Linked DNA regions of Homo sapiens: region 1 is linked to region 2. The links come from fine-mapping of genetic effects on gene expression. Tissue or cell type: whole blood. Region 2 holds a variant in brackets; the other region holds the start of a gene. All regions are shown on one strand. Distances are between the middles of the regions.

Region 1 (10,535 bases), 33 kb before region 2:
TGGCTCACACCTGTAATCCCAGCACTTTGGGAGTCCCAGGTGGGCAGATCACCTGAGATCGGGAGTTCCAGACCAGCCTGGCCAACATGGAGAAACTCCATCTCTACTAAAAATACAAAAATTAGCCGGACGTGGTGGCGCATGCCTGTAATCCCAGCTACTCAGGAGGCTGAGGCAGGAGAATCGCTTGAATCTAAGAGGCAGAGGTTGCAGTGAGCCAAGATTGCACCACTGGACTCCAGCCTGGGCAACAAGAGTGAAACTGCATCTCAAAAAAATAAAATTAAAAATAAATAAATAAATAAATAAACAGGCTTAGGCCGGGCGCGGTGGCTCGTGCCAGTAATCCCAACACTATGGGAGGCTGAGGCTGGTCGATCACAAGGTCAGGAGATCGAGACCATCCTGACCAACATGGTGAAACCCCATCTCTACTAAAATACAAAAAATTAGCTGGGCATGGTGGCTTGTGCCTGTAGTCCCAGCTGCTCTGGAGGCTGAGGCAGGGGAATCGGTTGAACCTGGGAGATGGAGGTTGCAGTGAGCCAAGATCACGCCACTGCACTCTAACCTGGTAACAGAGCAAGACTCCGTCTCAAAAAAAAAAAAAAAAAAACGGGCAGGGGGAGCTTAAAAGACATATCATTTTCTTTTTGAATGGGCAAGACTAAACTCCAGTGTCTACAGATTCACATTTGGATAATAAAACTATACATGTGCAGTGGCGCTCACCTGTCTCCCAGCTACTCAGGAGGCTAAGGATCATTTGAGCCCAGGAGTTCCAGGCTGCAGTGAGCATTGATTGCACCACTGCACTCCAGCCTGAACAATACAGTGAGACTCTGTCTCGAAATAAATAAATAAGCAAACAAACAGAAACCTACACAGGGCCGGGCGTGTTGGCTCATGCCTGTAATCCCAGCACTTTGGGAGGCCGAGGCAGGTGGATCACCTGAAGCCAGGAGCTCAAGACCAGCATGGTCAACATGGTGAAACCCCATCTCTACTAAAAATACAAAAAATCTGGTCATGGTAGCGGGCACCTGTAATCTCAACTACTCAGGAGGCTGAGGCAGGAGAATCATTTGAACCCAGGAGACTGCAGTGAGCTGAGATCATGCCACTGCACTCCAGCCTGGGCAACAGAGCGAGATTCTGTCTCAAAAATAAATAAATAAATAAACAAACAAATAAATAAAAGTCACAAAACAGTGGTTACTTAGGGAGTGAGGGGCAGCTGTGACTAGGACATAGTCCACGGAGGCGCTTCTGGGGTAGCTGGCAAGTGCAGTTGGTTGGCCCGGGTGGAGGCGACGATGACCTTCATCTCAGCACTGGGTTTCTGAAACTTAGCACTCTTGACATTCAGGCCACATAATTCTTGGTCCTTGGGGATGGCCTGTGCATTGCAGGGTGGTTAGCTACATTCCTGGCCTCCGCCCTCTAGAGGCCAAAAACACCCGCCTCCTCATTACCCAAAAGTGCTCCTGGATATTGTCAAACATTCTCCCATGGGGCAAAATCACTCCTGGTTGAGAACTACCCCCTGGAGGAACTCCTTAAACTATACATTTGTGGGGTTTTTTGTTGTTGTTGTTGGTTTTGTTTTGTTTTTTGTTTTTGTTTTTTACTTTTAATTGCATTTATTTTAATGCTGAATTTACTCCCATGCCATAAGTTTTTGTTTCTTCAGTTTCTTCTGGGATATCTTTTTCTTTCTTTTTTTTTTTTCCGAGATGGAGTTTCACTCTTGTTGCTCAGGCTGGAGTGCGATGGTGCGATCTCGGCTCACCGCAACCTCTGCCACCCGGGTTCAAATGATTCTCCTGCCTCAGCCTCCTCCTGAGTAGCTGGGATTACATGCATGCGCCACCACGCTCGGCTAATTTTATATTTTAAGTAGAAATGGGGTTTCTCCATGTTGGTCAGGCTGGTCTCGACCTCCCGACCTCAGGTGATCCACCCGCCTCGGCCTCCCAAAATGCTGGGATTACAGGCGTGAGCCACTGCGCCCGGCCTTGGGATATCTTTTTCTTTTGGGCAACCTCCTCCTCTGGCTTAGGAAAAATCTGTTCCTTTTCAGTAAGAATCATCTCAGTGTGGCAGGGAGAACTCATTCATGGGTTAATCCGACCGGAGTTCCGTAGGTCTGGCGACGCATCTTAGGTACTTTGTTCACTTGGATATGCTCAATGACCAGAGAATCTACATATAACCCTTAAGTTCAGCATTACTCTCTGCATTTTTTTTTTTTTTGAGACGGAGTCTCGCTCTACTGCCCAGGATGGAGTGCAGTGGCACAATCTCGGCTTTGCAACCTCCGCCTCCCGGGTTCAAGCAATTCTCCTGCCTCAGCCTCCCTGGTAGCTGGGACTACAGGCACGTGCCACCACACCCAGCTAATTTTTGTATTTTTAGTAGAGATGGGGTTTCACCGTGTTGGCCAGGCTGGTCTCGAACTCCTGACCTCAGGTGATCCGCCCACCTCAGCCTCCCAAAGTGCTGGGATTACACGTGTGAGCCACCATGCCCGGCCACTCTCTGCATTTTTAAGCATGTACAGCAAAAATTCAGCACTTTTTCTGGGCCACTGACTTTGTGTCCAGCCCCACTGCTTGGCCTGGGCACACCTGCCAACTCCACCATTGTAATGTTGGAATGGTACACACAGTTTCTGTAAAGTGACATCTTTCAGATACTTCGTGGATTTTCATATATACATACCCTTGATGGCCTGGGCAGTTTCATGAGTGTTCTCCAAGTGAACATGAAGATTTGAACCTCTTGATTTGCATGATTTTGTGGGGTTCTCTGGGTCAAGTAAATAGCGAACCATTTTCCCAGATTACCTCAGGCCACTTAGGGAAAGAGTATACATTTGTTTTATGTGGTTTCTTGAATCTGCTGTGTGTGTGCATCTATGGACGCTTTATTTTACAACTATATATATATATATATATATATATATATATATATATATATTTTTTTTTTTTTTTTTTTTTTTTTGAGACAGAGTTTCACTCTCGTTGCCCAGGCTGGAATGCAATGGCTCACTCTCGGCTCACTGCAACCTCTGCCTCCCAGGTTCAAGTGATTCTCCTGCCTCAGCCTCCCAAGTAGCTGTGATTACAGGCATGCACCACTACACTGGGATAATTTTGTGTTTTTAGTAGAGACGGAGTTTCTCCATGTTGGTCAGGCTGGTCTCGAACTCCCGATATCAGGTGATCTGCCTGCCCTGGCCTCCCAAAGTGCTGGGATTACAGGCGTGAGCCACCGCACCCGGCCACAATAAAAATATTTTAGGGCTGGGTGCGGTGGCTCACGCCTGTAATCCCAGCACTTTGGGAGGCTGAGGCAGGCAGATCACGAGGTCAGGAGATCAAGACCATCCTGGCTAACACGGTGAAACCCCGTCTCTACTAAAAATACAAAAACAGCCAGGTGTGGTGGTGGGTGCCTATAGTCCCAGCTATTCGGGAGGCTGAGACAGGAGAATGGCATGAACCCGGGAGGCGGATCTTGCAGTGAGTGGAGATCACACCACTGTACTCCAGCCTGGGTGACAGAGCAAGACTCCGTCTCAAAAAAAAAAAAAAATTATATATATATATATATATATATATATATATATATACACACACACACACACACATATATTTTAAACATTCCAATGGAGGCCAAGTGCAGCGGCTCATGCCTGTTATGCCACTATTTAGGGAGGCTGAGGCAGGAGAATCACTTGAACCCAGGAATTTGCGACCAGCCTGGGCAACATAGAGAGACCCTGTCCTTACAAAAATAAGAAACCTGCTGGACGTGGTAGCACATGCCTGTAGTCCCAGCTACTCGGGAGGTTGAGGTGGGAGGATTGCTTGAGTCTGGGAGTTCAAGGCTGCAGTGAGCCATAGGTCTTGCCACAGAACTCCAGCATCGGCAACAGAGTAAACTTTGTCTCAAAGGAACAAAGAAGAAAATTCCAATGGAGTTTCTGTGGGGAAACGCGACAGAATTCCACAGTTTTAACTGAAAGAATCAACCAATTAAAATAGCCCAGGAATTTTGTTTTTTTTTAAAAAGTATCAGATGTTAAAATACATTTTAAAATATTACTATATTCTGGCCAGGTGCTGTGGCTTATGCCTGTGATCCCAGCACTTTGTGAGGCCAAGGCAGGTGGATTGCTTGAGCCAAGGAGTTGAAGACCAGCCTGGGCAAAGTAGTAAAAGCCCGTCTCTACTAAAAATAAAAAAAATTAGCTAGGCGTAGCACACACTTGTAATCCCAGCTACTTGGGAGGCTGAGGCAGGAGGATCTCTTTAACCTGGGAGGCGGAGTTTGTAGTGAGCTGAGATATTGTGCCACAGCACTCTACCCTGGGCAACAGAATGAGACCCTGACTCAAAAAAGAAAAAGAAAACATTATTTCAGCAAACATTTATTAAGCATCTACTGTGTACTAGGGTCGCTGGATAAAGCAGTTATCAAAACCAGTTTCCTGTTCCCATGGTGCTGACACTTAATTTAGAGACAGAGTCTCACTCTGTTGCCCAGGCTGGTCTTGAGCTGCTGGGCTCAAAAGATCCTCCCACCTCAGCCTCAGGAGGTGCTAGGATTACAGGCATGAGCCACCCCACCTGGCCTTGGTGCCGACACTTTAGTGAGATGGCAAGCAGGTAAACCAATAAATAACCAGCCAGGCATGGTGGCTCACGCCTGTAATCCCAGCACTTTGGGAGGCTGAGGTGGGCGGATCACCTGAGGTCAGGAGTTCGAGACCAGCCTGGGCAACATGGTGAAACCCTGTCTCTACTAAAAATACAAAAATTAGCTGGGCGTGGTGGTGTGCGCCTGTAATCCCAGCTACTTAGAAGGCTGAGGCAGGAGAATCGCTTGAACCCCAGGAGGCAGAGGTTGCAGTGAGCCAAGATCGCACCACTGCACTCCAGCCTGGGACAGAGCGAGACTCTGTCTAAAAAAAAATTAAATTAAATTAAAAAATAAACCAAATAAATAACTGAGTGTTTCGTTTTTGTCTTTTTGTTTTGTTGTTTTCTTTTGTTTTGAGAACTAGGTCTTGCTATGTTGCCCAGGCTGGTCTCAACTCCTGGCTCAAGCTATCCTCCCATCTATGCCTCCCTAAATACTGGATTTACAGGCGTGAGTCACTGCGCCTGCCAATAACAGAGTCTGCTTTTTTTTTTTTTTCCAGATAGTAAAAGTAGCTATTAGGTTAATACAATAGAGTGATGAGAAAAATACTAACTGGGGAGGGGCTATGTCAGGAATTTAGGGGGCAGCAACACAAAAGCTGAACCTCAGAAAGTAGGGAAGGCCGGGCGCGGTGGCTCACGCCTGTAATCCCAACACTTTGGGAGGCTGAGGCGGGCGGATCACTTGAGGTCAGGAGTTCCAGACCAGCCCGGCCAACATGGTGAAACCCCATCTCTACTAAAAATACAAATATTAGCTGGACGTGGTGGTGTGTGTCTGTAATCCCAGCTACTCGGGAGGCTGAGGCAGGAGAATTGCTTGAACCCAGGAGGCGGAGGTTGCAGTGAGTGTCACTGCACTCCAGCCTGGGACTCCGTCTCAAAAAACAAAAACAAAACAAAACAAAAAACAGTAGGGGAGCCTCAAAAAGTACCTACGTGTACAGGTGCAAGGGAAAGCATTTCAGGTAGGTGGAACAGCATGTGCAGAGGCCCTGCGGTGGGGAAGATCCGGGACCTGATACTTCACCCAGGCACTGCGAAATAAGTGCCAGTTATAGAAATCCCACCGGGTTACTCTTCTACTCATAGTTCTCCCATGGCTCCCTCGTGCCTGTGGATCAAATCCAAGCTCCTTGGCCCGGCGCTGGGCAGAGACTTGACCTCTGCTGGTGCAGAAATGCCGCCAGCCAGCGCTCGGCGACCGTCACTCCAGGGCCCGCCCTCAGTCACCACCCCTACATTCCAGGCCCCGCCTGCCTGTCCCACCCCACCGTCCCACTGGGCGGCTTGGAGAGCCTCGGGTGCTGGTTGGCTGGCGTGGCCGTCAGTTAGGGCGAAGGCCTTGATAATCAGTCCCCGGACTTCGAGGGGGCGGGCTCGGGTGCGGGCGCGGCTGGGGCTGCGGCTTCAGGTAAATTGCCAGCTTGCGGGGACACGGATGGGGGACCCCTGGGTGGGTGGATTCGGGGACGCACCGGGACCCGGCGCTGCGCTGCGTTTCCAGCCCCACTGAGGGCTCTGCCCGCTGCGACGGGGCGGGCGTCGTGTCCTCTGGCCGGGACCCCTCCCACATTGGAAGTCCCAGGTGGGTAGCGAGCAGAGTGGGGGGCTCTGGAGGCGTGGGCTTGCCCCCCTCTCGCCCTTCGGGAGCTCACTGCGGGGCTCGTTCGCTCCCTAATGCCACAACCGGCCCTGGGACCCTTTCCCGGGACGGCCTGGGGACCCCAGCCAGCCCCTCGCGCTGGGCTGGGTGTGGGAGCGTGTCACGGAAATGGTGTTTTGGGGAGGGACGCACGGCCCCCGGACCCGCAGACAATGGGTAGCGGATGGAACCGCCCGGCGGCGCTTCCTGTAGGAAACTGCTCTGTCTCTGTGCGGCTAGGACGACCTGGGGGTGGACGGGTGATGATGACTTTAACACCCACCTTCCTGCCGCCACCGGTCCCCCACCCACCCACCTCAAGAGTCTGAGAGTCCCAGCAGACATCAGGGGCTGCCAGTACTCAGGGCCTCCTGGAAGGCGCCCTCTCCCCAGGACTGGGATCCTCACTGGCCTGCCGTGGCCCCCACCACTCCGGTTTGGTGATCACAGCTCTGCGTCCCAAAATAGTCCCTGGGGCGGGAGAGGGGGCGTGTGGCGTCGGCTCTGACGGCCTAATGAGGGGGTCTCAGGCACAGAATCCGGATCTAGCTGTGACAGTCAGGGCAGGGAGCGGAGGAGAGGGAAGGCAGCTAAACGCCCCACTTAGTGAGGCCCCAGCCCCTGAAGCCGCAGAGGTGGTGGGCACCTCCGCCCCCAATCAGAGTCTGACACAGGTGTAGGCTGGGAGGGACAAGCCCCCTGAGGCTCCTTGGTGGTTCATGCCTGTTATCCCAGCACTTTGGGAGGTCAAGTAGGGCTGATCTCTTGAGGTCAGGAGTTTGAGACCAGACTGACCAACATGATGAAACCCGTCTCTACTAAAAATTCAAAAATTAGCCAGCTGTGGTGGCAAGTGCCTGTAATCCCAGCTACTCAGGATGCTGAGGCAGGAGAGTCGCTTGAACCCTGGGCTCAGAGGTTGCAGTGAGCCGAGATCCTGCCACTGCACTCCAGCCTGGGTGACAGAGACTCCGTCTCAAAAATAAAAATAAAAGAAAGCATTCAAGTGTAGTGGCCAAAGCAAGGACTCTGGAAGACCTGCCTGGGTTTAAAACCTGCCTCTGCCTGTTTATGACAGGACCCAGGCAGGACACTAAACTGTTCTGTGTCTCAGTTTCTCCATCTGTACAATAGGGGAAGGGACAATGATCATAGGAAATCCAACCTCAGTGGATTTAGCTAGGATTTTAAAAAATAAGTCAAGGTCAGGTGCAGTAGCTCATGCTTGTAATCCCAGCACTCTGGGAGGCTGAACTGGGAAGATTGCTTGAGCCCAGGAGTTGGAGGCCAGCCTGGGCAATATAGCAAGACACCTGTATCTACAAAAAATAAAATTAGGCCGGGCACGGCTCACGCCTGGTTTGAGACCAGCCTGGCCAACATGGTGAAACTCCGTCTCTACTAAAAATACAAAAATTAGCCAGGCATGGTGGTGCACACCTGTAATCCCAGCTGCTTGGGAGGCTGAGGCAGGAGAATCACTTGAACCCGGGAGGCGGAGATTGCAGTGAGCTGAGATTGTGCCACTGCACTCCAGCCTGGGCGACAGAGCATGACTCCATCTAAAACAAAAAACCAAAAAATTTAAAATATTAGCCTGAATTAGCCAGGTGTAGAGGTCCATTCCTGTAGTCTCAGCTATTTGTGAGGCTGAGGCGGATCACTTGAGCTCAGGGGTTCAAGGCCACAGTGAGCTATGATCGAGCCACTGACTCCAGCCTGGGTGACAGAGTGAGCGAGACATTGCCTCTAAAAAAAAAAAAAAAAAAAGTAAATATCCATAAATTCCTTAGACTAGAGGCTGGCCCATAGTAAATATCAAAAGCGTTGTTATTATTTGACATTCTGGAGGGATCCATTCCTTTCTTAGCCCAGCCTCTGGATCCAACTGCTTCAGCTAGTTTAGGTCTTAGGAATGGCCCACAGCTGTCTTCTGAGATCCCAGGGCCTGGGATTTGGGTGTGACCAGGTCACCGGAGGAGGACGCTGACCCCATTGCGTCATACGGCCAGCTGTGTGAGAAGTAGACCCAGACCCCCCAACCCTTGATCTGGACTTTTTCCACAACCCAGTTCTTCCCTGGCAATTTCCTGAAAACAAGTGATGAACGGCATTGGCTGTCCTCTGCGATGACCCGCTGGCCTGTTGATCCACCCCTTGCAGCTGGTGTGAAGGGACGGGAAACAGCTGCTTGGGGACTGGAAGAGGCCCCCTGCCTGGCCTTGGAGTGGGAAGGGAGAGGTCAGGGACCTCGGCCAGACAGAAGTGGGAAATGGAGTTACGGTTTCCCCAGCGGTGGAGTAGGGTAATGAGTCAGGAGGGCTGGTGGGTGCTCAGTGCTTCATAGCATCAGGCACACAGGTGGTCCCAGGGATTCGAGAAGCCAGAAGGGGTGGCTGGGAGTGTTGCCATGTGGTTAGCACAGACGGGCCGTGGCCCAGGGAGAGGATGAAGTGGGTTTGGCAGATGCCTGTCAGTGGAGGACTGGACAGGTAAAGGGCAGTCAGAAGCTGTGGCAGGGACCTGCTGACAAGGGTTCCGCAGATGGGCAGAGCCCAATCTGAGGGTGCTTCCCACAGGCAACTGATTTAATTGTTCTGTGCCTCAGTTTCTCCATCTGTAAAATATGAATAATAATACTACTTTGCAGTATGCAAAGTGTTGTATGGGGGCTGTGTGTGTGTGTGTGTGTGTGTGTGTGTATATATATATATATATGGTTTTTTTTTTTTGAGACGGAGTCTGGCTCTGTCCCCCAGGCTGGAGTGCAGTGGCATGATCTCAGCTCACTGCAACCTCTGCCTCCCAGGTTCAAGCGATTCTCCTGCCTCAGCCTCCTGAGTAGCTGGGACTACAGGCATGCACCATTGTGTCCAGCTATGGCGATGACATTTAATCAGGAAGGGCACACCGTAGGCACTTTCCCCTCCCTGAAGGTTTTCCATGTGGGCTTTCCAAAGCCCATCTTTCCCACTCCATGTTCCTGTGCTTTTCTTTTCTTTTCTTTTCTTTTTTTTTTTTTTTTTTTTTGAGACAAGGTCTTGCTCTGTCAACCAGGCTGGAATGCAGTGGCATGATCATAACTCACTGCAGCCTGCATCTCCTGGACTCAAGAGATACTCCTGCCTCAGCTTCTTGAGTAGCTGGGACTACAGGTGCATGCCAACACATCCAGCTAATTTTTGTGTTTTTTGTAGAGATGGGGTTTCGCTATTTTATTTATTTATTTAGAGACAGAGCTTCGCTCTTGTTGCCCAGGCTGGAGAGCAATGGCTTGTGAGCCACTGTGCTTGGTGGTTTCACTATTTAAAAACAAACAAACAAAAGAGATAGTGGCCAGGCACCTTGGCTCATGCCTGTAATCCCAGCACTTTGGGATGCCGAGGTGGGTGGATCACCTGAGGTCAGGAGTTCGAGACCAGCCTGGCCAACATGATGAAACCCTATCTCTACTAAAAATACAAAAAATTAGCCAGGTATAGTAGCAGTGGCTGTAATCCCAGCTACTCAGGAGGCTGAGGCAGGAGAATCACTTGAACCCAGGAGGCAGAGGTTGCAGTGAGCCAAGATTGTGCCACTGCACTCTAGCCTGGGCAACAAGAGGGAAATTCTGTCTCAAAAAAAAAAAAAAACAAAAAGAGATAGGGTCTCGCTATGTTGCGCAGGTGGGTCTTGACTCCTAGGCTCAAGCGATCCTTCTGCTTTGGCTTCCCAGAGTGCTGAGATTTCACCCTGTGCTTTTTGAACCAAAGTTCTGGATTCAATATTTGTCCTTGTTAAATATCACATTATTATATGTGGCCCAATCTTCCTCACTTTCTTACAGCCTCCATCATGTCATCCAAACAGTCACTTTCCCAGGCAGCCCCATGAATAGTCACAGCTCTGACAACCCAGGTGTTTTGTGTTTGCATTACAAACTCTTACAAGCCAAGGATCAAGCCTGTGACACTCCGCTAGCGACATTCCAGGGAGACAAGTATCCGTTGATTTGTTGATTTGGATCTTTGGTGCATCCAGCCCGCAATTCCCCATCATTCCTGCAAGAGTTTCACAACTGACCTTGGTAAAAATTTGGATGCACAATTACATCCTTTTTTTTTTTTTTTTTTTTTTTTTTGAGACGGAATCTCGCTCTGTTGCCAGGCTGAAGTGCAGTGGCGCCACCTCAGCTCACT
Region 2 (10,535 bases):
AGTGATCCTCCCCTCCTTCCTTGGCCTCCCCAGTAATTGGTGTTACAGATTAGTGCCACCATGCTGGGTCAATTTTTTTTTTTTTTTTTTTTTTGAGACGGAGTCTCACTCTGTCACCCAGGCTGGAGTGCAGTGGTGTGATCTCGGCTCACTGCAATCTCCACCTCCCGGGTTCAAGCGATTCTCTGCCTCAGCCTCTCAAGTAGCTGGGGTTACAAGTGCCCACCACTACACCCAGCTAATTTTTGTATTTTCAGTAGAGGCGGGGTTTCACCATCTTGGCCAGGCTGGTCTTGAACTGACCTTGTGATCCACCCGACTCGGCCTCCCAAAGTGCTAGGATTACAGGCGTGACCCACCGTGCCTGGCCTGTTTTGTTTTTGTTTTTGTTTTTGTTTTGAGATGGAGTCTCCCTGCGTCGCCCAGGCTGAAGGGGTGGGTTGCCCCTCCACACCTGTGGGTGTTCCTCGTTAGGTGGAATGAGAGACTTGGAAAAGAAAGAGACACAGACAAAGTATAGAGAAAGAAATCGGGTGACCAGGGGACCAGCGCTCAGCATACGGAGGATCCACCCGGCCTCTGAGTTCCCTTAGTATTTATTCATCATTATTGGGTGTGATGTGTGAGAGGGGGATGTGGCAGGATCATAGGATAATAGTGGAGAGAAGGTCAGCAGGTAAACACGTGAACAAAAGTCTCTGCATCATAAACAATGTAAAGAATTAAGTGCTGTGCTTTAGATACATATACACGTAAACATCTCAATGCCTTAAGGAGCAGTATTGCTGCCCGCATGTCCCACCTTCAGGCCTAAGGCGGTTTTCCCCTATCTCAGTAGATGGAATATACAATCGGGTTTTACACCGAGACATTCCATTGCCCAGGGAAGGGCAGGAGACAGATGCCTTCCTCTTGTCTCAACTGCAACAGGGCATTCCTTCCTCTTTTACTAATCCTCCTCATCACAGACCCTTTACCGGTGTCGGGCTGGGGGACGGTCAGGTCTTTCCTTTCCCACGAGGCCACATCTCAGGCTATCACATGGGGAGAAACCTTGGACAATGCCTGGCTTTCCTAGGCAGGGAACCCTGTGGCCTTCTGTGGTGTTTTGTGTCCCTGGGTACTTGAGATTAGGGAGTGGTGACGACTCTTAAGGAGCATGCTGCCTTCCAGCTTCTGTTTAACAAAGCACATCCTGCACTGCCCTTAATCCATTTAACTCTGAGTTGACATAGCACATGTCTCAGGGAGCACAGGGTTGGGGGTAAGATTACAGATTAAAATGGAGTCTCTTATGTCTACTTTCTACACAGACACATTAACAATCTGATTTCTCTTTCTTATCCCCACACCAGGCTGGAGTGCAGTGGTGTGATCTCGGCTCACTGCAAGCTCTGCCTCCCAGGGGTTCACGCCATTCTCCTGCCTCAGCCTGCCTAGTGGCTAGGACTACAAGTGCCCACCACTACACCTGGCTAAGTTTTTGTATTTTTAGTAGAGACGGGGTTTCACCGTGTTAGCCAGGATGGTCTTGATCTCCTGATCTCATGATCTGCCCGCGTTGGCCTCCCAAAGTGCTGGGATTACAGGCGTGAGCCACCATGCCCGGCCTCCATGCTGGGTTAATTTTTAAATGTTTCGTAGAGATGGGGTCTTGCTTTGTTGCCCAGGCCGTTCTCAAACTCCTGGGCTCAAGCGATCCTCCTGCCTTGGCCTCCCGAGTAGCTGGGACTACAAGTGAGAGTCACCATGCTCAGCAAGAGCTCATTTAGTCCAACCCAGGGGAGGGTAGAAGTTAGCGCCTCAGCCAGGACTCTGCATCCTACAAAACAGATGAAGTCCGGGGTCCCTCCAAGGGTCCTGTGAGAAACTGAGACATTACTGTTGATATAATTATGAATTCTTATTTTATTTATTTATTTTGAGACAGTCTCACTCTTATTGCACAGGCTGGAGTGCAGTGGCGCGATTTCGGCTCACTGCAACCTCCACCTCCTAGGATCAAGTGATTCTCCTGCCTCAGCCTCCCAAGTAGCTGGGATTACAGGCGCATGCCACCATGCCAGGCTAATTTTGTATTTTTAGTAGAGATGGGGTTTCACCATGTTGGTCAGGCCGGTCTTGAACTCCTGACCTCATGTGATCCTCTGGCCTCGGCCTCCCAAAGTGCTGGAATTACAGGTGTGAGCCACCATGCCCAGCCATGTATTCTTCTCAGAGACAGAAGTGTATAAACCTTGGGCTCCTCTCAAAAAGCAGTTTGGTCCCTGGTTTCAGGTGTCTTCTCTTAATTAAATGGGGACTCTAATAGCATCTACTTCAGAAAGCTGTTACGAGGGTTAGTCCTCATAATTAATATTTGTAAACTCTTGGAGCCTGGCACAGAGTCAGTGTCCTGCCTACCTCCTAATAACTCCACCAGTTAGATGGTGATGACCCCTCTTGCAGAAGAGGAAATCGAGGCTCACAGAAGCCAAGTGACTGGCCTGGGCCACACAGGCAGCAGTAAGCAGAAGCAGGATTTCAAACCAGTTTTCCTGGACTCCTGTTGGGGTCTGGGCTCTACAGCCAACTCACGGTGTGGGCAGTCCCTCAGCCTTCTTGAGCCTTGGTTTCTTCACATATAAAATAGGGATGCTAGACTTGCAGTGTGCTGAGATCTGGGAGGTGATGAGGTCAGGCAGGGCCTGCTCTGTACTTAAAACTCTGTGAGGTCTGGGCGCGGTGGCTCACGCCTGTAATCCCAGCACTTTGGGAGGCCGGGGAGGGCGGATCACCAGGTCAGGAGATCGAGACCATCGTGGCTAACATGTTGAAACCCTGTCTGTACTAAAAATACAAAAAATTAGCCAGGTGTGGTGGTGGGCGCCTGTAGTCCCAGCTATTCGGGAGGCTGAGGCAGGAGAGTGGTGTGAACCCGGGAGGCGGAGCTTGCAGCTCACTGAGATCGCGCCACTGCACTCCAGCCTGGGTGACAGAGTGAGACTCTGTCTCAAAAAAAAAAAAAAGAACTCTGTGAATAGGCCAGGCGCAGTGGTGTGTGCCTGTAATCCCAGTGACTCGGGAAGCTGAGGTGTGAGGATTGCTTGAGTTCTAGACTTGTTTGAGTAACACAGCGAGACCCCGTCTCTATTAGAAATTTTTTAGGCTGGGCATGGTAGCTCACGCCTGTAATCCCAGCACTTTGGGAGGCCGAGGTGAGAGGATCACTAGGGGTCAGGAGATCGACACCAGCCTGGCCAACAGGGCGAAACCCTGCCTCTACTGAAATACAAAAGTTAGGGGCGCTGTGGCTCTCGCCTGTAATCTCAGCACTTTGGGAGGCCGAGGCGGGTGGATCGCTTGAGCCCAGAAGTTCAAGACCAGCCTGAGCAGCATGGGGAAACCCCATCTCTACAAAAAATACAAAAATTAGCCGGGTGTGGTGGTGTGCACCCGTAGGCCCAGCTACTTGAAGGGCTGAGGCAGAAGGATCTCTTGAACCTGGGAGGTCGAGGAAGCTTCACTGAGCTGAGATTGCGCCACTGCACTCCAGCCTGGGTGACAAAGTGAGACCCTGTCTCATAAATAATAAACAAGAAAGAAAATACAAAAATTAGCCGGGAGTGATGGTGCACACCTGTAATCCCAGTTACTTGGGAGGCTGAGGCAAGAGAATCACTCAAGCCTGGGAGGCGGACGTTGCAGTGAACTGAGATTGTGCCACTGCACACCAGCCTGGGTGACAGAGCAAGAGTCTGTCTCAAAAAGAAGGAACTCAGTGGAGTGGTCCTTGTTGTCACCTTCTGATTCACTGGAGTCCAGCACCAGAGTGTGGCAAGATACCTTGTTCCCACACAGCCCCTTGCCATGCCCCCAGAGATGTGTGCATTTCCCAGGGAGGCCACTTCTGCCTTTTCCATTTCCTTGAGGCTCCTGGGAGGTCCTGTGCCTCCACCCCTGGGGCGCCTCCTCCATCACCCCACCCTCCTGCTTCCTTTCTTGCTTAGGCTGTGAAGTGTGTGAGCTCCACAGGCTCAGGTGGGTGGGGTGAGAGGGGAGGGTGCTCGTCCTGGACTTGCCGGCACAGGGTCTCCTGGGGGCTCCCTCTTGGCCAGCTCTGGGCCAGAGATGCGTTTTGCAGTTGCCATTTGCGCATGGATTCTCAGCCCCACCAGCCTGAGTCTTCCTGAGGGCGGTGCCCCATCTTCCTGGCTCTGCGCCCACACAGTAGCGCCTGCCATGCAGTTCTTGCCCAGTCTGAGGCAGGAATAGCTGGAGGCCATTGTCACCTGATCGCTTGGCCCTTTTGCCAGCATCCTGTTTTGAGGGGCAGCAGGAATGGGGGTGGGGGCCTTGTGTACGCTGGAGACCAAAAGTGGGAAGGGAGGAGCCCAGCTCTCCACAGTGGGTTCTGGGCCTGGGGGCCACAGCAGGGGGTTCATACAGGGCTCAGGGGAGAGAGGAGGCTTGCTAGCTCCCACCTGGCGTTGGCTGATCCTCTGAGGGGCTGCGTTGGAGGGGTTGGCATTCTGGAACACCCTGCTGTCTGTCCTGCAGGTCCAGAAAGTCCCTGTGGGTGTGTTTGTCCCGGGGCAGGTGTGGGCTCCCTCAGATCTTTCCACACTGTTCTTTGGAAACCCTCACTGAAGTCTTTCCCTCCTCCAGCTCTGCTGTAGCTGCCACTGAGAAGAAGGCGGTGACTCCAGCTCCTCCCATAAAGAGGTGGGAGCTGTCCTCGGACCAGCCTTACCTGTGACACTGCACCCTCACGGCCACCCGACTACTTTGCCTCCTTGGATTTCCTCCAGGGAGAATGTGACCTAATTTATGACAAATACGTAGAGCTCAGGTATCACTTCTAGTTTTACTTTAAAAAATAAAAAAATAGAGACAGAGTCTCACCATGTTTCCCAGGCTGATCTTGAACTCCTGGCCTCAAGCGATCCTCCTGCCTTGACCTCCCAAAGTGCTGGGATTACAGGCATGAGCCACCACACCTGGCCTGATTTTATTTTTATTTTTTAGACCTTCCCACTGAGGCCTCTGCTTGACCTTGGTCACCCTGTAGCTCAACGGGGAAGGCAAAGGACAGTGAGGGCTGCTTACAGGGAAGGCAGACCTAGGGCAGATCAGGAAAGGCCTCCCTGAGCCAGAAACCATTATGCTGGGGCTGTGGGATGAGAATGAGTTAGCTCCAGAAGGAAGGCAGCTGGTTCCTGGGGAGGAGATAGAAATCTGGCTGCAGGAGCCAGAGTTTTCGCGCTTGTCACCCAGGCTGGAACGCAACGGCACGATCTCAGGTCACTGCAACCTCTGCCTCCTGGGCTCAAGCAATTCTGCCTCAGCCTCCCGAGTAGCTGGGACTACGGGTGTGCACCACCATACCCGCTAATTTTTTTTTTTTTTTGTAGAGATGGCCAGGCTGGTCTCAAATTCCTGACCTCAGGTGATCCGCCCGCCTTGGCCTCCCAAAGTGTTGGGATTACAGGTGTGAGCCACCACGCCTGGCCCCTGATTTTAAGCAATACCCAGCTTACTTGGATTTTGGGGTGAAGTCAGTGCTGAGTCTCCCAACTCTGTTGGCACTCCAGGGGTGGGACAGACACTGTCCCTGGGTGCAGAGGCCCTGGAGACAGCACTGCCCTTTCCCCCAAAGGCCAGGCTCTGACCTTGAGAGTGGTGGGAGTGGGTGATCCTTCTGGGAGG[T/C]TGGACTCCCAGGACCGCTGGCTGTTGGGGAGCATTGATTGTGAAGACCAGTCAGGTGGGGTAAGGGGTGTATGTGCGGACACTCAGTAGGCCAGCCACAGACTTCTCACTTCTTTTTTTTTTTTGAGACAGAGTTTCGCTCTTGTTGCCCAGGCTAGAGTACAATGGCGCGATCACGGCTCACTATAACCTCTGCCTCCTGGGTTCAAGTGATTCTCTTGCCTCAGCCTCCCGAGTAGCTGGGATTACAGGCGCCTGCCACAAGCCCAGCTAATTTTTGTATTTTTAGTAGAGACGGGGTTTCGCCATGTTGGCCAGGCTGGTCTCAAACTCCTGACCTCAAGTGATCCGCCCACCTCTGCCTCCCGAAGTGTTGGGATTACAGGCGTGAGCCACCGCGCCTGGCCTAACTTCCATCTCTTGAGGGCTCCCACAGCCACTTCTCACATGAACCTTCCTCAGCACCTTCCCACTGAGGCTCCTGCTTGACCATGGTCACCCTGCAGCTCAACGGGGAAGGCAGAGGACAGTAAGGGCTGCTCACAGGGAAGGCAAACCTAGGGCAGATCAGGAAAGGCCTCCCTGAGCCAGATCCCATTATGCTGGGGCTGTGGGATAAGAATGAATTCGCCCCAGAAGGAAGGCAGCTGGTTCCTGGGGAGGAGACAGAAATCTGCAAAGGGAGGGTGTCCAAGTCTGGCTGCAGGAGCCACCCAGTGACCCTACGCAGGGGAGTGTCATGGCTTCCCCAGGGCACAGCCCCAGACCCTTCAGCAGCTAAAAAAGATCAGCTGTGGACCAAGAGGGTGCTGAGACCGCCCTGCCCTCTGGAAGGGGAAAGGCCACGGCTACAGGCAGCAGGTACCAGTGTCCCAGAGTGGGTCCTACAAAGGCTAACACCTTCCTGGAGAAGGTGGGATTCTGCTTGGGGCAAAAGGATGAATCAGATTCAGAAAGGTCAGGAGGGAAGGAAAGACTAGGCAGGGTGTGCAGAGGCCACAAGGAGGGCAAGACCCTAGGCAAGGCATGCCGCTGACGGCATCTGAACCAAGTTTTATGACCACAACTTTTTTTTTTTTTTGAGACAGAGTCTCACTCTGTCACCCAGGCTGGAGTTCAATGATGTGGTCTCGGCGCACTGCAACCTCCGCCTCCCGGGTTCAAGCGATTCTCCCATCTCAGCCTCCCTAGTAGCTGGGACTACAGGAGCATGTTACCACACCCGGCTAATTTTTGTATTTTTGGTAGAGACGGGAGTTTTACTATGTTGGCCAGGCTGGTTTAGAACTCCTGACCTCGTGATCCGCCTGCCTCGGCCTCCCAAAGTGCTGGGGTTAACAGGCGTGAGCCAGCGCGCCGGCCAACTTTTCTAACAAATGGGGTCTCACTGTCACCCACGCTGGAGTGCAGCCCCAAGTGATTCTCCCACCTCAGCCTCCTGAGTAGCTGGGACTACAAATTAGAGCCACCATGCCCAGCTAATTTTCTTTTTTCTTGAGGCGGGCGGGGACTTGCTGTGTTGCCCAGGCTGATCTCGAACTCCTGGGCTCAAGCGATCTGCCCGCCTCTGCTTCCCAAAATGCTGGGATCACACACGTGACCCACCGCGCCCGGCCTTTATTATTAAATTTAATTAATTAATTGATTTCCTTTCCTTTTTCCCCCCCAAGCAACCCGACTCCGAGAATGGACGTTTCATTTATTCATTTACTCACCAAATGTTTACTAAGAGCCTACTATGAGTCAAGCACTATGTGTCAGATCCTGAGAATAAAGCAGTGAGCAACAGAAGATCCCTGCCCTCCAGTAGCTAGCATTCTATGGGGACTCGGACAACAAACCAGAATAAGTAAATAAAATAAATTACCTGTCGGCGCCACAAAAGCAGTGGGATGAGGGAGGAAATGCGGAGTGCCTGAGGGGCGTGGCTGCCATATTAAAGAAGATCACGAGGCAGTAACATTTGCAGCAGTCCTCATTTGGAACGGGAAATAATGCAAATGAACACCAACAAATTCCTTCCCATCCCCAGAAGTTTCTAACTTCAAGCGGGCTCCATACCTTTCAACTGATCTGGTCACTGGGGAAAGTGGGGACGGGCCTCTAATTCTCTTTTCCCTGCTATTCTGACATTTACGGTACGCGTAGCCGCGGGCGCCGCAGAACTCAGGGGCTTGGGCCCCGCCCCAACCCCGCGCGTGCGCGTGCGCAGGGATAAGAGAGCGGTCTGGACAGCGCGTGGCCGGCGCCGCTGTGGGGACAGCATGAGCGGCGGTTGGATGGCGCAGGTTGGAGCGTGGCGAACAGGGGCTCTGGGCCTGGCGCTGCTGCTGCTGCTCGGCCTCGGACTAGGCCTGGAGGCCGCCGCGAGCCCGCTTTCCACCCCGACCTCTGCCCAGGCCGCAGGTGAGTGACGCCCCGCAGCGCGGGCTCCCACCCCTCGCGAGGCTTCGCCCCGCCGCCGCGCACCGACAACGCCTAGTCACTGGCTGCACCGCACGTCAGTTCATGACACTCCCCCAGCACGTGGACTTGGACTTCATCGCTTGTGGGAAGGCGCGCACTGGTGCTAGGAAGACCCCATGCTGGGGGAGGGGAGGAGGGTGTCTCCACCTGCCTTTAACGGTTTTGCTCCGGCCCTGCACACCGTCTCCACACCTGCTGTGCCCTGTCGTCCCCCATTGTCACCTCCAAGCCGCCCTTCATACCAGCGTGGTCAGGAAAGCTCTTAGCAGGCTCAGATTGTCCGACCGCTAATCACGCAGGACGGGTCACCTGGTGCCTCTCGCACCTTTGCCTTCCAAACCCTCGCGCCCAGGCCTTGTGACCGTTCCGCAACCGTCCCTGCCCTCCCAGTCTCTCCTCCTTTGTCCTCCATCCTTAGAGAACGCGAGGTCTCTCCCCCCCATGCTACTGCAGGCTCTCGCAGAGACTGGGGTCACAAGTTGAATATACCCCCGTGGACGTGTTCGCCCTGGCCTAAGAGGTATTGGTGGCCAGTGGGGACGGGCTCCCTCTCTGATACCCCTAGAGGCAGCTGGAGGGTTGGAGTGGCCTCCCTGTGCACTCAGGCACTCCCAACTTGCAGCCCTGGGCTCAGGCTCACACACTTTCCCAGCTCCTTTGTGCATTCCGCACTTCTAGGTCCCTGGACTCATCCCAAAGTCCCTGACATTCACGTTAAATGTTCCTGGGTTTTTTTTTGTTTGTTTTTTTTTAAGGAGGCAGCGTTCACGTTAACCAAGTACAAAAGTTTTTGTTTTTTTTTTTTTGAGTCTCCCTCTGTCGCCCTGGCTGGAGTGCAGTGCAATGTTGGCTCACTGCACCCTCCGCCTCCCGGGTTTAAGCAATTCTCATGCCTCAGCCTCCCGAGTAGCTTGGGACTACAGGCACCGTCACCATGCCCGGCTAATTTTTGTATTTTTAGTAGAGATGGGGTTTCACCATGTTGGCCAGACTGGTCTCGAACTCCTGACCTCAAGTGTTCTGTCCGCCTCAGCCTCCCAAAGTGCTGGGATTACAGGACAAAACTCTATACACAGTCTCTTTTTTCTCAGGATGTTGAGGTAGGGATTCCCAGCATACCCCGTTTACAGGTGAGGAAACTGAGGCCAGGAGAGAAAGTCACTGGTCACTGTAACTCCTGTCAGGCTTACACCCTATGAGGCGGGGACTGCTGTGCTCTACTGTCCACTTTGCAGAGGGATACACACTCCCGCAGTCCAGCGAAGGGAGGTCAGAGGTGTCAGGGCTGTGGAAGTCTGCGCCTGGGTGGAGAGCCACACCTGGAGGCTGCCAGATCTCCCGGGGGCGGGGAAGGAAGCAGGCACCGGTTTGTCCACAGCTCTTCTGGGATCCATAGAGCTCAGGGACCCTGTGGCAAGTAGGTGCAATTAGGCCTGAAGGCCGAGGAGGGGCTGGCAGTGGGGAGTGGGGGGTTGGAGGCTCATGGCTGGTGGGTAAAGGTGGAAGAGGTTAAAGGCCTTGGCAGAGTGAAGCTAAGCCAGGGTGGCGGATTTGCCACCTCCCCTGGCCGCACCCAGGAGGAAGCCGTAAAGGCCACTCCCTTCCTCTGTCCCTTGGCCCAGGTTGCGGGCCCCTCCGTGCCCCTCCAGGTCGGCAAGCAGCTGAGCTTCCCTGCTCAGAATCTAGGACAGCCGGGATCTTCTCTGGACCCAGCTTGGACCCTTATGTGACCTGTGTCCACTTATAATCAGGCACTGCCCTGGGTTTAGGCGGCCAGGTCACAGCCCTGACCTCCACAGAATGTCCAGTCTGTGGGTGGACAGGCATGACCAGGGCTTTAAGGACAGTTGTTAGACATGGGAGGCAGTGCTTCCTAGGTCTCCAAGAGGGACATGAGAACCCTCCCAGGAAATCAGCTGAGATCTGAAAATTGAGGGGAAAACACAGGGTGTAGGGAGGAGAGAGGGAAAGGCAAGTCTCTGGTGTCCTAATGGACCTTGGGGCCTGGGGCCTGGGGCTCTGGTGAGGAGCTGACACATTTAGGATGGGGAGAGTGATAGGTCTGGGAGGAATTCAGGAGGCGGGGCAACAGGACTTGGTGACTGAGCAGATTTTCTACCCAGTGCCTCAGTTTCCCACCCACTGCCTCAGTTTCCCTTTTGCTACGCAGAGGAGATAGACCCTCCCTGCTGACCTGAGCCCGGGAGCCTGACCCAGGGCATGTGGAAAAATGGCCCGTCCCTCAGTCTCTTTAACCACTGAGTTTGGAGGTCTCCCTGGCAGATCATCTCGCTATGAGGAGCCTGGTGAAGACTCTGGGATCAGCGAGACCTGAGTTCGAAGCCCAACTCCGCTACCAGCTCTTTTTTTTTTCTTTTTTG

The links. PIP is the estimated chance that this variant, and not a neighbour inherited with it, causes the effect.
Region 1: KANK3 starts here. The variant in region 2 is fine-mapped to the expression of KANK3 in whole blood (TOPMed, PIP above 0.99).

What each region holds. Positions count from the first base shown.
Region 1 is chr19:8,338,816-8,349,350 of GRCh38, reverse strand. It overlaps KANK3 (KN motif and ankyrin repeat domains 3), which reads left to right and starts at 6,089. Exons shown (of 11, transcript NM_198471.3): 1 at 6,089-6,126. It also overlaps the pseudogene LOC100129682. RefSeq lists enhancers at 5,855-6,646, 8,581-9,081.
Region 2 is chr19:8,305,708-8,316,242 of GRCh38, reverse strand. CD320 (CD320 molecule) reads left to right here and starts at 7,885. Exons shown (of 5, transcript NM_016579.4): 1 at 7,885-8,094. The coding sequence starts at 7,953. NDUFA7 (NADH:ubiquinone oxidoreductase subunit A7) reads left to right here. Exons shown (of 4, transcript NM_005001.5): 4 at 4,648-4,959. The coding sequence ends at 4,738. RefSeq lists enhancers at 3,700-4,302, 7,057-7,586, 7,642-8,381, 8,266-8,395, 8,382-9,122 and 1 more and silencers at 7,783-8,121, 8,096-8,185. The variant T/C (reference allele first, on the strand shown) is at 5,689.